Linked DNA regions of Homo sapiens: regions 1 and 2 are each linked to region 3. The links come from fine-mapping of genetic effects on gene expression. A gene starts in region 3. Each other region holds a variant in brackets. All regions are shown on one strand. Distances are between the middles of the regions.

Region 1 (5,000 bases), 22 kb after region 3:
GTACATCAAAGGGCACTATTAAGAAAGTAAAAAGAAAACCCACAGAATGGGGGAAAATATTTACAAATTATGTATCTGATAAGAGTTTAATATCCTCAATTTATAAAGAACTCCTACAGCTCAACAATGAAAAGACAACCCAATTTAAAAATGGGCAAAAGATCAGACGCAGTGGCTCACACCTGTAATCCTAACACTTTGGAAGGCCGAGGTGGGCAGATCACTTGAGGCCAGGAGTTCGAGACCAGCCTGGCCAACATGGTGAAACCCTGTCTCTACTACAAAGACAAAAATGGGCCAGGTGTGGTGGTGCACACCTGTAATCCCAGCTACTCGAGAGGCTAAGGCACAAGAATTGCTTGAACCTGGGAGGTGGAGGTTGCAGTGAGCCAAGATTACACCACTGCACTCCAGCCTGGGCAACAGAGTGAGACTTTCTCTCAAAAAATAAATAAAATAAAAATAGGCAAAGGATTTGAAAAGATGTTTCTCTAAATAAAATACACAAGTGGCTAATAAGCACATGAAAAGATGCTCAACATCATTAGCCATTAAGAAAATGGACAACAAAACTATGATATGACCCCCCCAACCCCCACTAGGATGGTTATAATAGAAATAATAATAATAACAAGTGTTGGTGAATATGTGGAGAAATCAGACTGCTGGTGGGGATGCAAAATGGTGCAGCTTCTGTGGAAAACAGTCTTGCAGTTCCTAAAAAAGTTAAACTTAGTGTCACCATATGATCCAGCAACTCCACTCCTAGGTATATGCCCAAGAGAATTAAAGACATGTAATCATACAAAAACTTATGCACAAATGTTCATAGCAGCAGTATTCATAATAGCCACAAAGTGGAAACAGCCCAATGCCCATCAATTGATGAATGGATAAATAAAATATGGCATCTTCATACAATGAAATATTATTCAGCAGTGAAATGAATACATGAAAACATTATGCTAAGTGAAAAAAAAAGACACAAAGTAGGTCTATACTGTATGATTTAATGTATATGAAATGTCCAGAATAGGCAAATTCATAGAGACGGAAAGTAGATTAGTGGTTTCCAGGGATTAGCGGGTAGGGAAGAATGGGGAGTGACTAATGGGTACAGGGTTTCTTTTGGGATGATGGAAATGTTCTGGAATTGAACAGTGGTAATGGTTGTACAACCTTGTGAATATACTAAGAAGAAAAAACACTGAATTTTATCCTTAAAATGGTGAATTTTATGTTATATAAAATTTTTTATGTAAATTATCTCAATTTTATTCAAAAAGGAATTATTACACATAAAATGCTTAGAAGGCTATGCAGGCCATGATAAGCCTTCAGTTAGTTGCCATTTAGTTTATAAACTCCACTGAATTTATGGGTTGGTCCAGATTTCCGAAGGAAAACATAAAAGGAACATCACCTTTAGAAATCGAATTCATGGCCTGGCGCGGTGGCTCATGCCTGTAGTCCCAGCACTTTGGGAAGCTGAGGCAGGCAGATCATGAGGTCAAGAGATTGAGACCATCCAGGTTAACACAGTAAAACCCCGTCTCTACTAAACATACAAAAAATTAGCCGGGCATGGTGGCACGCGCCTGTAGTCCCAGCTACTCGGGAGGCTGAGGTAGGAGAATCGCTTGAACCCAGGAAGCGGAGGTTGCAGTGAGCCGAGATCGCCCCATTGCACTCCAGCCTGGGTGACAGAACGAGACTCCATCTCAAAAAAAAAAAAAAAAAAAAGATTGAATTTGCATACTTAATACATGTTAAAGCATTTATTTGCATGTAGTTTCTTCTCTCATTTCATACTCCATCTTGATTTGACATGCTTTATATATATACATATATAATATATATAAGCATTTATTTGCATATTGTTTTTAAATTGTATTTTCATGATCACTTTTATCACTTTTGATATTTTTGAGGTGTGTCCAAGGCTTAAATCGCATTTGTTTTTGAAGTCTCAACTGGATTGAGTCTAGGACTGCCATGTAGCTCAGGGAATCCGCTTATGGTCAGGCCTGTGAAACAGCAGGATGCTCTTTGACTTTGGGCTGAAAGCCTGAGACGGAGGCTTAGCTCCATTGCTTACAAGCTATGTGACCTGGGACAAGACTAAGGTTGTCAGCTTTAGCAAACAAAAATACAGACACCCAGTTACATTTGAATTTCAGATAAACAATGTATATTGTTTAATGATTTTGTTTAATGATATATTGTTTAACGATATATTAATGAAGAACAATGATATTAAACAATGACCAGATAAACAATGAATATATTTTTTGTGTAAACATATCCAAAATATTATATGGGAAATACTTATACTAAAAAATTATTTTATATGAAATTAAAATTTAATTTATCTGTGAGAGTTTTCAAGGGAATCATATTTAATTCTCACAACGCCCCCTGCTGCCCTTTCCCATTTTTGTCATGAAAGAGACTGACTCGGAGAGGTTAAGTGACTTAGCCCAAGGTCATCGAGCTAGAAAATTATTGAGCTGGGATTTGAACTTGGGTG[C/T]GTCAACTGTAGCATGCTCTGCTACTGGAACTCAAGACAGATATGTAGCAACCTACTTTTTTTTTTTTTTTTTTTGAGACAGAGTCTCACTCTGAGGCCAGGCTAGAGTGAGGGCAGTGGCACGATCTCGGCTTACTGCAACTTCTGCCGCCCAGGTTCAAGCGATTCTCCTGCCTCAGCCTCATGAGTAGCTAGGATTACAGGAGCCTGCCACTGCGCCTGGCTAATTTTTGTAGTTTTAGTAGAGACGGGGTTTCACTATTTGGCCAGGCTGGTCTTGAACACCTGACCTCGTGATCCACCCGCCTCAGCCTCCCAAAGTGCTGGGATTACAGGCGTGAGCCACCGCACCTGGCCTGGCAGTGACCTACTTAATGATAGCCTGGGAGCCATGAGCTAACTTGGTAAGAACAGAAGCTTTCATGGACTGAGACGGACTTTTGAATAGGAGTTAGAGAATTCGATTTCAAAGTGTTTCTATGACCCTGTCTGTGTTAGTTTCCTGTTTCTGCCTTAACGAATGACCACATATTTAGTGGCTTAACACAAATTTATCTTGCAGCCTCTGGAGGTCAGAAGTCTGAAATGGTCCAGGTGTCTGCAGAGCTGTGTTCCTTGTGGAGGCTCTAGGAGAGAATCTGCCTCTTGCCTTTTCCAGCTTCTTAAGGCTTGCGGCATGTCTTGGATCGGAGCCACACACTCTGACCTCCGCTTCCATTAGCACATTTCCCTCTCTGACGCTGACCCTTCTGCCGCCCTCTTGTAACGACGCTTGTGATTACATGGGGCCCACCGGATAATCCCGGATCATCTCTGAATCTCAAGATCCTTAATCACATCTGCAAAATCCTTTTTGCCTTGTAAGGTAACATATTTACAGCTTCCGGCGATTAGGAGGTGGACATCTGTGGTGGAGAGGTTATTCTGCCTATCACACTAAGAGAGAAATGATCTAGTTGACTTGAGTGTCCCAGGCCTTAACTATAATCCCTTTCATCTGTATAGCTTTCACACACATTCTTTTTTCCACCTTGCATCCATCCTGGAAAGTAGATGAAGGCTGTGCTGAGCCCATTCTGTGAGGGAGGAAGATGAAACTCAGAGCGGAGGCCTCGTGCTGGGTGACACAGCTAAAAAGAGACTCAGGCCCAGGGCTTTTGATTCAGCATCTGCCCCCTCAGTTCCCAGCCATGCATCACTAGAACACTATTCTCACCGATGGAGAAGGACAATTCCTCAGCTACCCCCACAATTTAGGAAGAAGTCCCCAAGGTGAACCAGCTCCCTCAGCCCTGAATCTGCCCTCAGAAGGTGGCCTTCTGCCCAGAGCGAGGATGGAGGGGTGCAGGCAGAGAACCATTTTTTTGGTGGAGGTCCACGGGACAGAGCCCAGAACTCAATGTCCATCCATCTTGGGCGTGTCCTCCCCAGCAGCCCAGGCTGACTGGACCGGCGCAGGAACTCCTGCATGCTCAGAGGGAGCCCTGATTCTTAGAACTGTCTTCTCATAGCAGTCTTCTTAGGAGTATGTTGCTGTGGTTTGTGATTCTGCCCCTGGGTGCTGCTGCATGGGAGGAGCCAGCTCTCTCCCTGCCCCACAGATCATGGAAGGCAGCGACCATAGGCTCACTGATGCTCCTGCAGGCTCCCTACACCCATCCATTAGGATGGCCCACATGTGCCAGCCAGGAATGGGGGACACAGCCATGAAGCCGACAGATAGGCTCCTGCACCTCTGGAACTTGTGCTTTAGCGGGGCAGACAGATCCCACAGAAGTGTATGTGTAGGAGTTCTGAGGATGACAAAAAGGATGAGGCAATAGAAGGTGACTGTGACCTTGTGAGACAGGCACTGTCCCCAGTCTATCACTCTATTTTTGTTTCTTTGGGTTTTTTTGAAGCAGGGTCTCGTTCTGTCACTCAGGCTGGAGTGCAGTGGTGCAATCATAGCTTACTGCAGCCTTGATCTCCTGGGCTCCAAGCAAGCCCCCTGCTTCAGCCTCCTGAGTAACTAGGACTCCAGACACACACAAACACCACACCCGGCTAATTTTCAAAATGTTTATTTTTAGTACAGACGGGGTCTTACTATGTGGCCCAGGCTGGTGTCAAGCTCCTGGGCTCAAGTGATCCTTCTGCTTTGACCTTCCAAAGTGCTGGGATTGCATGTGTGAGCCACCATGCCTAGTTCACTGTCCCCACTCTAAAGCAGACAGCCCAAGTGGGGGCAAAGTTGAGAAGCAAACACACACTGTACTCCAAAGCCTCTGAAAATCCCTCCTTGTGTCCTTCCTAAGAAGGTCCCAGAGTCTCTGTGTCATCCCTGAAGCTGAAGTCAGTCCATTCTGGGAGCAGAGTCCAGCTGTGTCCTGTGTTTGGGGCTAAGAAGAATGTGAGATTCCTGCTGAGTGTGAGCTGAGCAAGGTTGTAGTAAGGAGGGCAGTGATGTGATGCATTGTTTAAGGGGTGC
Region 2 (6,409 bases), 31 kb after region 3:
TCGCTTGAACCTGGGAGGCAGAGGTTGCAGTGAGCCGAGATGGCACCACTACACTCCAGCTTGGGCACAGAGCAAGACTCCGTCTCAAAAAAAAAAAAAAAAAAATTTTTTTTTTTTTTTAGAATGGAGTCTCCCTACGTTGCTCAGGTCAATTTTGAACTCCTGGCCTCAACCAATCCTCCTGCCTCAGCCTTCTAAAGCACTAGGATTGTAGGCCTGAACCACTGTGCCCAGCAGAGAAAACCGGCTCTCTAGGTCAAGGCATTGGCTCAAGAACACACAGCTAACAAGCCGACATAGCTGGGATTAGAACCCAATTGTCTGGCTCTAGAACCCCTTCACTATTTGAGGTACAATTTACTGCCTGACTACTAGTGCTAAACTTTGGGTTGGGGGCAGGGCCTGAGGCAGCTCCTGCTCTCATACATTCTGAGAGCCAGTTTGACAATAGGCAACTACACAAAAAACCGAAATAATCCCAGAATGCCTCAGGGCTCCAGGGGAAGGCGAAAAAAGCGGGTGCGTTTATAAACTTAAAATAATCAGAGGCAGCATCTCCAAGGACTGTGAGAATGCCCCAAGTCAGGGCAAAAGTTTTGGCTGGTTTGGGAAGTGATGAAAGGCCAAAGTGGCTGCAGCGAGCGTGGACCCGGGAGGTCTCCAGGCGCGTTGGTGCGAGTTGGGGACGGCAGGCAGGGACACCTAAAACCTACGGTACGCCACGAAGGGGTTTCAGCACGTCCTGAAAGGCCCGATCCCCCCCCAGAACCGCTGTGAGGGGGGCAGAGGGAGGTCCCTCGACAGGATGTGGCCTTAGTCGAGGAAGGCGGGAAGCAGGGGCTGGCACCCCCGACGCCCCACCCGCCCCCCGTGGCCTAGCAGCAGGGCGGGGCGAGGCGGGTCATGCACCCCTACCAGCCAGCCACTCCCACCCAGCCCTCGGCTCCCGCAACTCGCGGGGGTCCTCGCCCGGGTCCCCCGCCCCGCCCCGCCCGGCTGGTGACGTCACGGCGCTCGTCGGCGCCGCCTGTGGCGTCACAGGCCGGGCCCGCAGGGCTTTCTAGGGGTCCGTCGCTCTTGAAGCCGCCGGCGGCGGGCGCGTGCGCGGCCCGATGAAGAAGGAGGTTTCCAAGCCGTCTCCGCCCAAGTTGATCGGTGGATGCGCGCCCCCGCGCGGGGCACCGGTTGCTGTGGACGCAGTGGCGGCCGTTGGCTGGCGGGTGCGGCGCAGCCTCGGTGTCTCTGGGCCGGCGGTGCAGGGCAACGTTTCATGGTGCCGGGCGGCACCATGAAGTCTCTAAAGAAGGATTCCCGCCTCAGAATAACTCCGACCAGATTATTAGAGGCCTCAGAGAATGTCAAAGGTTGGCGCTGGCTGCCTTGGGCGCTCGGGAGAACCCGAGAGGGGAAGCGGTCCCCGGAAAGAGTTCAGGACACGGGGCCTGGAGGATGGGGATGGCACCAGGGATGGAGGAAAGATCACGGGGAAGTGGGGTACTGGGCATAGGACCCTTAGGGATGGGGGGCAAGGCAGGAAGAGCCTACAGCGCACTGGGCCTTGGGGATGGGGACATAGGAAGTGGGAGACTGACAGAGGGGCCTCAGGGACCACTGGCTGGGGAGATGGCCTTGCGCTACCTCTAACCACATCTTAGGGTGGCATGCAGGAGGCAGGATCCCCGGACTGGATGAAGTGCAGAAGAGCCAGGAAAGAGTTTAAGGGTAGAAGGGCCAGGAATTGGGGTCCTTGGGAAGAGGAAAGAATGAAGTGTTGAAACCAGCCACCTTGATGGGATTATTTGGTAGAGGAGGGTCGGGGAGCGGGGCAGGCGTCACTTAGGATTCCTGCTGGAAAAACCCAGAAGAAAGGCCTTGCTTGGCTAGTTCTCTTTTTGACTGCCTTTTCCTACCACGTGCACTTTCCAGCTGGATGACACTTATCCAGCTCCTTTAGCCTGGAAAGAATCGCTAGATATGACTGCTTCCTACCCTCTACAGCTTTCTTCTGGTTGCACCTGGGAGAGCCACAGGGCGTCTGATAGCGGACTGACTTCCATGGACATGTTCTCACTTGCAACCCACCCCCTTTTGATCTTTTTTGGCTGTTTCCATTTATTTATTTTTAAATTTAATTTTTAGCTTTTTTTTTCTGTGTGTGTGTGTGTGTGTGTGTGTGTGTGTGTGTGTGTTTGTAAACAGGGCTCTCGCTGTGTTGCCCCAGCTAGTGTCAAATTCTTGGCCTCAAGCGATCCTCCTGCCTCGGCCTCACAGACTGCTAGGATTCCAGGCATGGACCACTGCGCCCAGCCTATTTTTGTTTACTGAGAGCTGATTTTGTGTGGTACTGTGGCTCACCAGAAGGGTATCGGTATTAACTGTGTGACCCTGGTCCTCAAGAAACTCAGTCTAATGAACACCTGGAGGAGTAACCTGACAAAGGTAGAAATACAAATGCTGTGATGTAGGTGCCCATCGGGCTTAAGGGGGCTCAGAGCACCTGAGCCAGACCAGGGATGGTTGTAGGGGTACGTCTTCTGAAGAAGGTGACATCTATGGCAGACAAGAAAAAAAAGGAGAGGTTTGCTTCTCTAGGTCTAGGAAGCAGCATGAGTTTATGGAACTGTAAATGTGGGAACCAGAAGAGGCTGCACAGGTGGGTAGGTCAGGGGCCAGACCATGAAAGGGCTTTATGTACTAGGTCAGAAAGCCTGGATGTGCTCTTGCAGGCCCTGGGGAGACCCAGCCTCAGAGTTGTGAAAGCTCATTGTGAGGAGAGGGGACCCTCAGAAAACTAACAGGAGCTTAGTCGCTTTTCAGTATGGCTTTATGTTTCTTCACGTATAAAAGTCCAACGTTGAGCCGGGCATGGTGGTGCACATCTGCAGTCTCAGCTGCTCAGGAGGCTGTGGCAGGAGGATTGTTCCAGGCCAGGAGTTTATGATCACACCTGTGAATAGCCACTGCATTCCAGACTGGGCAACACAGTGAGACCCCCATTATTAAAAAAATAAAAGTCCAATGCTGTTTTATGACATACTATATATATATATGTATGTATTTTATATATATTATGTATATGTGTATATATGTGTGTGTGTGTGTGTGTGTGTGTGTATATATATATATATATATATATATATATATATATATGTATTTTGAGACAGGGCCTCGCTCTGTCACCCGGGATGGAGTGCCGTGGTACAGTCATAGGTCACTATAGTCTTGAACTTCTGGGCTCAAGTGAACCTCCTGCCTCAGCCTCCCAAGTTGCTAGTATTACAGGTGCACACCACCATGCCTGGCAAATTTTTTTTTTTTTTTTTTTTGTAGAGACAAGTTGCCCAGGCTGGTCTTAAACTCCTGGGCTCAAGCGATCCTCCCACCTTGGCCTCCCAAAGTGCTGGGATTACAGGCATGAGCCACCGTGCCTGGCCCGTGACATACTTTTTAATAGTTGAGAGAGAGGGAATATCTGGTCTCCTTTCACAAGGGCAGTCAAGGGCTTTCCTAGCCACTGCCTCCTGCTCACATAGTTTCTGGGAGATCGTATCAGATTTGAACTGCTGTAAACAAATCAAGGAAAGATTTTTCACTGCATATTTATTTTTAATAAGCAGAAAATTTAGTTTGTTAATTAACCCTTGAGTTAAGAACATGCACCAGAGTGAGGAGG[G/GA]AAAAAAAATGAAGTGTTTAGCATGCAAGATATCTTTTTAAAAATATCTCAGGGGAGCCTCTAATGTTGTAGAGCAGTACTCTCCCCCAGCCCCCATACAAGGCAGCTAATGACCCAGTGTCATTTTGTAACCTTGTGCGATGTTTCTCCAAAGTCTCTGACTCATAAGCAAAAAGGAAAGCAAAAATAGTGACTTAAACCTGTTTCTCGGGACCTGAGAGCCCTTTTGAGTCCTAGTACCCTCCCTTCCTGCTATGCACCACCTCCCCACCGCTGTCTTGTTGCTAAGAAACCAAGAACCCTCCTAGCAATATTAGATTCCCCTCCCCAACCAATTAAAGCTCTGCCCTAGTAGGGACAGCCCCTCCATGGTTCCCCCAGCCCAACCCTAAGGTCAGAATTTCCCAAAGACTTTAATCAACACTAAAAACGAATAATACTTAGATAAAACAAGAAGCAGAAGAAATAGAGTCCGGGTTTCTTCTCCCTCCATAGTTTCCCCGCTCCGTATCTCGCTTCCTACCCCCACCTGAGCACCTTGCTTCCAGCCCTCTGGTCCAGCTCCGACAAGAGACTGACTACCCCGTGCAAGCGGGGTGGTCTCTTTTACCCCTCACTGTCAGCATCAAGGGAGAAATGTCAGCTGGGTGGCTCACTAGGAGCCCTATCAGCTTGGGATTCCAGACCAAAGAACCAGAAAGAGCTGGGCCTGTATAGGCTCAGTAGTCAGACATACCTCAGCCCTGTGGAGTCTTCCTGCAGGTCCTAAAATGATCCCTGGGGCTCTTCCTTCCCTGGTCTCCCCAGCTTGCCTCTGCCTCTCCGGTCCATCTGGCTCTCTTCATCTGATGAATCATTCTGAAATGCACCTGTCATCAACTCACTCCCCTGAACCAAAGATCAGATGCCTGAGCCATGCTTTACAAAGCTGTCATGCCCTGGTTTCCCTCTCATCCCCAACATCACCACCTCTCCACCTCCCCAGCAAGTTTTCTTTTTTTTTTTTTTTTGAGACGGAGTCTTGCTCTGTCGCCCAGGCTCTGGAGTGCAGTGGTGCAAACTCGGCTCACTGCAAGCTCTGCCTCCCGTGTTCACGCCATTCTCCTGCCTCAGCCTCCCGAGTAGCTGGGACTACAGGTGCCCGCCACCACGCCTGGCTAATATTTTTGTATTTTTAGTAGAGACGGGGTTTCACTGTGTTAGCCAGGATGGTCTCGATCTCCTGACTTCGTGATCCACCTGCCTCGGCCTCCCAAAGTGCTGGGATTACAGGCGTGAGCCACCGCGCCCGGCCCCCCAGCAAGTTTTCTGTGTTATCGTGCCACTCACGTGCCATGCTCAGCCCTGCCCCTTGCTTTGCTTGGACTTTGACTTCACCTGGAGCATCTTGGTTTGCCGCTGTACCTGTGCAAAGCTTGCCTCTCCTTTGCAGCCTGCCTCAGCCTGTGGAGCCACCTCTGCAGCTGTTCCTCTGAACACTTCTTCAGAGCCCTGAACTGTGTAATCCACATGGATCTGTTCCTTTTTTGATGTCTAACCAAACCTATTGCCTGTACCGCAAATGTAGGAACTCCTCTAGCTATGATTGGTGTGTGTTCCTGTCACATTTTTCAGTACCTCAAGAGAAGGAGCCATATCTTAACCTTTTATACCATCTTTGTAGTTTATAGCACATAGAAGGGGCTTGGTAAGCACTCTCGAGGAGCAATTTAACTTTAAGATACATATATATCCCTGGGCGCACTGGCTCATGCCTCTAATCCCAGCACTTTGGGAGGCCGAGGTGGGCAGATCACCTGAGGTCAGGAGTTTGAGACCAGCCTGGCCAACATGGTGAAACCCTGTCTCTACAAAACATACAAAAAATAGTTGGGCGGCCGGGTGCGGTGGCTCATGCCTGTAATCCCAGGACTTTGGGAGGCTGAGGCAGGTGGATCATATGAGGCCAGGAGTTCAAGACCAGCCTAGCCAACATGGTGAAACCCAGCCTCTACTAAAAATACAAAAAGTTAGCCAGGCATGTTGGTGCATGCCTGTAATCCCAACTACTTGGGAGGCTGAGGCAGGAGAATCGCTTGAACCTGGGAGGCAGAGATTGCAGTGAGCCGAGATCACGCCATTATACTCTAGCCTGGGCAACAAGAGTGAAACTCCATCTCAAAAAAAAAAAAAAAAAAAAAAGCTGGGCATGGTGGCGCATGCCTGTATTCCCAGCTACTCGGGAGGCCGAGGCAGGAGAATCACTTGAGCCCGGGAGGCGGAGGTTGCAGTGAGCTGAGATCACACCACTGCACTCCAGCCTGGGGGACAGAGTGAGACTCCATCTCAAGAAAAAAAAAAAGATGTATATATCATTTTAATGAATATTTTAATAACTAGAACATACCACTCCCTGACTGTATGCAGTAACAGAGCATTTATTGGACTACATTAAAGATAACTTTCTCAGAATAACCTTAGACCAGAGTTTTACTATTTCAATCTAAAGCAAACATGAAAGATTAGCTTCTCTATCACTGAAGGGATGGGAGCTTTGGCCCCCAAAAATCTTCGGCAGTGTTGAAAGTTTCTATTGACACGTGGTAATTGTGCACCCACCAGTAAAAAGCACACATCTGGAGACGTTTAATCACTTGGAAAGATGTCAACCCAGCCAAGGTTATGGATAAAGGAAGCAAATGTCCTAGAAAGTACAGATAATACCAAAATATTTACAAAAACAGACCTTCAGCTGAT
Region 3 (6,386 bases):
CGCGCCTGCCCCCTTACCTCCCAGCGCGCCTGCCCCCTTACCTCGCAGCGCGCCTGCCCCCTTACCTCGCAGCGTGCCTGCCCCCTTACCTCCCAGCGTGCCTGCCCAAGGCAGCAGCAGCCTCCTCTTGACTTTTTAAGAAATGAACATAGGTTTAAGGTATTTTCAGTACCAGGCTCTGTGCTAGGTACTTTCACATTATTTTCTCTCCAAATCTTCCCAACAATCCTTTCAAGTAGCCATTGGTCCCACTTCACCAATGACCCAACAGAAACTCAGGGAGGTTCCGTATCTTGCTCAAGGTCACACAGCTGGATCAGAACCCAGCTGTCTGTTAGGCAGGTTCACTGCACACTAGTTACCAACTTGTCAGAGTCCAGTGAGGCAAACACCCACAAGTTACATAACGCTGAGTCCAGCGAGGCAAACACAAGTGACATGCAACGTGTTTATTACCTATAGGTAGGCACTAAGGGACAACAGAAGGCTGGGATTCATTTGGAGCTGGACCCCTACGGCTCAGGAAAGCTGCTGAGGCAGCTGGGGGATGGACCGTTGTCTGTGCATGCCTGACTTTTTTTTTTGTTGTTGGTTTGTTGTGAGATGGAGTCTCGCTCTTTCACCCGGGCTGGAGTGCAGTGGTGTGAACCCTGGGATTCAAGCAATTTTCCTGCCTCAGCCTCCCTGGTAGCTGGGATTACAGGCGTGCACTACCACGTCCAGCTATTTTTTTTTTTTTTAGTAGAAACAGTTTCGCCATGTTGGCCAGGCTGGTCTTGAACTTCTGACCTCAGGTGATCCACCCGCCTCGGCCTCCCAAAGTGTTGTGATAACAGGCATGGGCCACCACGCCCAGCCAGCCAGACTTGTACTGAAGCTGAGGGACCCCAGAAACCAGCCCGCCCTGTTTTTCGTTTGTTTGTTTGTTTGTTTGATACAGAGTCTCACTCTGTCTCCCAGGCTGGAGTGCAGTGTCGCCATCTGGGCTCACTGCAACTTCCGCCTCCCAGGTTCAAGCAATTCTCCTGCCTCAGCCTCCCGGGTAGCTGGGACTACTGGCACGCACCACCACACCTGGCTAGTTTTTTGTATTTTTAGTAAAAACGGGGTTTCACCGTGTTAGCCAGGATGGTCTCAATCTCCTGACCTTATGATCCGCCCGCATCGGCCTCCCAAAGTGCTGGGATTACAGGAGTAAGCCACCGCGCCCGGCTTCTGCCCTGGGCTTTATACCCTGGGGCCATGTGACATGTTGGGCTGAAGTGTTGAAGGACATGCTTTTTCTAGGGGGACTGGAACAGAGCATGGCTGTGCTGGCCAGTCCTTCCTTCCCTCAGGATGTTGCATTCTCTGCACACTCTACAGTTTTATTTATTTATTTATTGAGACAGTCTTGCTCCATCACCCAGGCTGGAGTGCAGTGGCACTGTCTCAGCTCACTGCAACCTCCGCCTCCCAGGTTCGAGGGATTCTCCCTGCTCAGCCTCCCGTGTAGCTGGGATTACAGGTGCCCACCACCACGCTTGGATAATTTTTGTATTTTTGGTAAAGACGGGGTTTCAGCATGTTGGCTAGGCTGGTCTTGAACTTCTGATCTCAAGTGATCTGCCCGCCTCGGCCTCCCAAAGTGCTGGGATTACAGGCGTCTACAGTTATTCTTGAGAACTACAAGCAAGAAAGGAGGGGAGAACCAGGTCAGTTCAAGGCCACTGGGAGAACTGTCCTGCACCGCCTGCCTCTGAAGCCCATGATGTTTCTGCTTTGTGGGACAGTTGTTCAGGTGCCTGCTTCCCCAGGCCTTCCCCTGCGCCTTCCCCCTCTCTCCTACACACACCATCTGACTGTCCTTCCAGCACGTACACCTCCAGATGCTTGGGTTGGCCTGACCCAAAACAGTCTACTCTCCCGGCCAAGCCAATTGCCCCTGGGATTTTCTGCTCCTCCAAGATCCCGTGCATAGCCCTGGTGGTGGCTCATGCCCTTAATCCTTAGTTACTCTAGATGCTGAGGCAGGAGGATCGCTTGAGGCCGAGGAGTTCAAGACCTCCCCTCTCCCAAATATTTGTAAATGAAATTAAAAGAAAGATCCAGCCCAAGTGTCTCTTCTGCCCTACTGACTCCCACACTCTTAAAACAGATGACCTCACAGCACTGAGGCGGACGGCTCTGGTGTCCAGCAGGCACGGAATTAATACGCCTTGCCTGTCCTGGCCGGTTGGCTTGCCTCTCTCCTGCCAGAATGCAACCTGGCTTTATGCACCTAGATGTCCCCAGCGCCCAGTTCTGAGCCAGGCACATCAAATGTCAAGGAATTGACTGAACAAACTAAGAGCTCCTGGATGGGTCCGGGAACTCGCCCGGGCACAAGGTGCCAAAAGGCAAGCAGCCCGCCTCGCGGCCTGGGGAAAGAACCGACAGGAGGCCGCAGTGAGCGCCCGGGCGCCCGGCAGGTGGCGCCGCAGCCCCGGGCCCGGGCCCTCTTGTCGCGCGGTCACGCAGCCCCTCTTCCTTCCGCCGGCTGCGCACTCACAGTGATCCCTGCGCGCGTCTCCTGCTCGGGTCAGTGCGCCGCGCTGCGCTGGGCGCCATGGCGCTCCCCGGAGCCCGGGCTCGCGGCTGGGCGGCAGCAGCCAGAGCGGCCCAGAGGCGCCGCCGCGTGGAGAACGCAGGAGGGTCCCCGAGTCCTGAGCCTGCGGGCCGGCGCGCGGCGCTTTACGTACACGTGAGTAGGGGCGGGGGCGGAGCCCACGGTGTGTGGCCGCAGCCCTGGCCGTGACCGTGGCCGTCCAAAACCCAGGTGGCGGTTTGTCACTCTATGAACCCGCCTGCCGTGTTTCCGTGCCCCCGTACGAGGTCTGGGATGGGACCCTGTGCTTTGGCAGGGAAATGACTTGGTCCAGAAACCTGAAGTCTCTGCTACTCACCGGCTCGGTGACTCTGACCAAATGGTTCAAATTTCATAACAATTTTCCTCTTAGCAAGACAAAATTTTCTTAAGAGCAGTGTTCTGACTCGGTAGCTGGGAAAATGGCTCATAGGAAAATTGTATGAAAATTATATGATCCCAGAAAGAGCTTGGGTTGAATTCCTTCCTGACGTCTGCTGGTTGGAAGAGGCAGCGTAACAAAGGAGTGAGCCTCAGTTTTCTCACATTGAAGTGGATGTAATAACCCCAGTGCGACCTGCCTTGGGGAGTTGTGTGGCTTAGATGTCCTAGCTACTGTGGAAAGACCTCGGGATAGGGGTGGGGGTGGGGTTGGGGGTGTGTGCGACTGAACCCTGGAAGTGGCCAGGGCAGCTCTCACCGCGCACGTGCACTCACTGCCCCCAGTGGCCTTACTGCGAGAAGCGCTGCAGTTACTGCAACTTCAACAAGTACATCCCTCGCCGCCTGGAGGAGGCTGCCATGCAGAAGTGTCTGGTGACCGAAGCTCAGACGCTGCTGCGGCTCAGCGGGGTGCAACGGTGGGTAGTGGGGGCTGTAGGCAGCGTTTTGGGAAATATTTGGAGGAGTGGTGGGGGATAGGTGCAGGCATCCCAGAGGGCTCCCCCAGGTCTCATTTCTCCATTCTCTTTCCCCAGGGTGGAGTCTGTGTTCTTTGGTGGGGGGACCCCCAGTCTAGCCAGTCCCCACACGGTGGCTGCTGTCCTGGAGGCTGTGGCACAGGCAGCCCACCTGCCTGCAGACTTGGAAGTCACATTGGAGGCTAATCCTACTTCAGCTCCGGGCTCCAGACTGGCAGAGTTCGGGGCAGCAGGGGTTAACAGGTTGTCTATAGGCCTCCAGGTAACCCATGGCACTCACCCCATCCCAGTGCACCCCGCCCTTCAGTGCCATCTCCTCTTTGGTCACATTCATTCATTGGGCAAACATTGATTGAGCACCTTCTGGGTGCCAGGGACACAGTAGGGCCTAGTGCGACACTTTTATAACTCCTTAATTGTCTGCTGCTGTCATAGACCACAGACTTTATGAGAAAGGGATCAGGTGTGGCTTTTCTATTTCAAACACTTACCATAGTGCCTGGCACATAGTAGGTGGTCAAAAAAGATTTGCTACATGACACGGGAGACGCAGACATGTAGCCAGATTATTGCAGCATGGTAAATGTCACCTGTAAAGGGGGTCTCTATAAAAGGCTTCTAGAGTACAGCCTGAAGGGAGGTCACTCTGATGAAATCACTGAAACTTCTCTGGAGGAGATGTTTGAATGAAGAGGAAGAGTTCACCAGGTGAGGGGGTGTGGGGGAAACGACACAGGCCATGGAAGAGCCTGGCATGTTTTGGGGGAGTTGTGAGTCATTCCTTGTGATTGGAGAGGCTGGAAACAAGGTTGCAAGGTAGAGTCCAAAACCTTTGGTGCCTACTAAGGAGTGTGGGTTTTGTCCTAGTAATGATAGGGAGCCATTGAAGGTTTTTAAGTAGGGAGAAACCTAGTCGTCTCAGGTTGACCTCCGATATTTCCGTAGGACTTCCGGGTTGTGGGCTTTGTTCTGATGGAATATGCTGACAGAAACACATCACTTCTAAGATATTCTTACCCCAAAGCGCATATCTTGAATCTAATTGTCAGGAAACCCTGAATTAAGAGATTTTTACAAAATTATTGTGGTAAGAACAGACAGCATGAGATCTACCGTCTTAACAAGTTTTTAAATGTACATACAGCACTGTTAACTATAAGCACAGTGTTATACAGCCAATCTGTAGAAATTATTCATTTTAAATAATTCATTTAAATAATTATAATTCGTAAATAATAATAATTTATTTAAATTCATTAAATTATTCATTTTAAACAACTGGCCTGTATTCTTCAAAAATGCCAGTGTCATGAGAGACAAAGAAAGGCTGAGAATCTAAAGGAGACAGAAGAGACAGCTGAATACAATGTGTGGCCCCTGACTGGGGAGGAAGGAGGAAATTACTACAGTAGATGTTATTGGGACCATTAGCCAAATTTGAATATGACAATGTATTATGTAATGGTGTTGTGTCAGTGTTGCATTTCCTGAACTCTGTAATTGGATTGCAGTTATGTAAGAGAATGTCCTTGTTCTTTAGGAAATACACACCTAAGTATTTAGAGGTTAGGGAGTATAATATCTATAACTGCTATTCAATATAGTGGCCACTAGCCACAGACTAGTGAGCATTTGAAATGTGGTAAGTTAAGTTTAATTCACTTAAATTTAAATAACCACATGTGGCTACTACCTATCATATTGGACAGTACAGATATGAACATTTCCACCATTGTAGAAAGTTCTTTTGGACAGTGCTGGTTTATAATTTACTGTTAAATGATTCAGCATAATAACAGGTATGTATGTTTAAAGAGAAACAAATATGGACAAATGGTGAATCAAGATGAAGGTTTTTTTTGTGATTTTCTTTCAACTTTTCTATAGGTTAGAATTATTTAAAATTGAAAAGTAAAGTAAATAAAGACTTGATTTTGGAGTCAGACAGTCCTAAATTCCAGGTCGAACTTTGCAACTGTATGGCCTGGACAAGTTACTTAACACCTCTGAACCTCAGTTTTCTCATCTGTAAAATAGAACTAATATTGGAGGGTTACAAAGATTAAATTAGACACTACATAAAGGTGCTTGGCACATAGCGACCCTTCTGTGAATGGCAGCTCTTGGTGCCAGCTTGACCTTCCCCCTCCTGCCTTCCAGCTGCCTGCCACGTGCTGCGTTCTCCCTGTATCTGTGTCTACAATGGGGAGGAGGGTTCTTGTCTCTCTCTGAGCTGCTGGTATGCTTACACCCACCCTCTTTTCCCAGTCCCTAGATGACACTGAGCTCCGGCTGTTGGGACGGACGCACTCGGCCTGCGATGCTCTGCGGACGCTGGCAGAGGCCCGGCGCCTCTTTCCCGGGCGCGTGTCTGTAGACTTGATGCTGGGGCTGCCGGCACAGCAGGTGGGGCCGTGGCTTGGGCAGCTGCAGGAACTGCTGCACCACTGTGATGACCACCTCTCCCTCTACCAGCTGTCCCTGGAGCGGGGCACCGCACTCTTCGCCCAGGTGCAGCGGGGTGCCCTTCCAGCCCCTGACCCGGAGCTCGCAGCTGAGATGTACCAGAGGGGCCGGGCTGTCCTTCGGGAGGCTGGCTTCCACCAGTATGAGGTCTCCAACTTTGCCCGGAATGTAAGTTCTGGGGCTGATGGCTGGAGGTGGAGGATGGGCAGACTGCAGTGTGACCAGGGCGTTGTGACCTTCTGAAGAGAAGGATCCTGGCCGAGATGGTGGGACATTCTAACCTGGGGCCCCTTACCTGAGTCTAAAAATGAGGCCTGCCCTCTTCACTCTGCACTATTTCCTCCCTCCCCGCAGGGGGCGCTCAGTACCCACAATTGGACTTACTGGCAGTGTGG

Evidence for each region. PIP is the estimated chance that this variant, and not a neighbour inherited with it, causes the effect.
Region 1: its variant is the best candidate, but not a certain one, in a credible set for the expression of RSAD1 in whole blood (TOPMed, PIP 0.58).
Region 2: its variant is the best candidate, but not a certain one, in a credible set for the expression of RSAD1 in whole blood (INTERVAL, PIP 0.56).

What each region holds. Positions count from the first base shown.
Region 1 is chr17:50,498,835-50,503,834 of GRCh38, forward strand. No RefSeq gene overlaps it. Among named protein-coding and RNA genes, the nearest start is that of MYCBPAP, 7.1 kb to the right of the region's middle. The variant C/T (reference allele first, on the strand shown) is at 2,531.
Region 2 is chr17:50,507,387-50,513,795 of GRCh38, forward strand. MYCBPAP (MYCBP associated protein) reads left to right here and starts at 1,053. Exons shown (of 19, transcript NM_032133.6): 1 at 1,053-1,364. The coding sequence starts at 1,289. RefSeq lists silencers at 759-1,048, 4,020-4,109 and enhancers at 1,069-1,128, 1,149-1,278, 3,720-3,919. The variant G/GA (reference allele first, on the strand shown) is at 3,674.
Region 3 is chr17:50,476,298-50,482,683 of GRCh38, forward strand. RSAD1 (radical S-adenosyl methionine domain containing 1) reads left to right here and starts at 2,563. Exons shown (of 9, transcript NM_018346.3): 1 at 2,563-2,722; 2 at 3,332-3,465; 3 at 3,583-3,787; 4 at 5,794-6,159; 5 at 6,346-6,386. The coding sequence starts at 2,588. RefSeq lists silencers at 2,329-2,818, 3,390-3,776 and an enhancer at 6,211-6,386.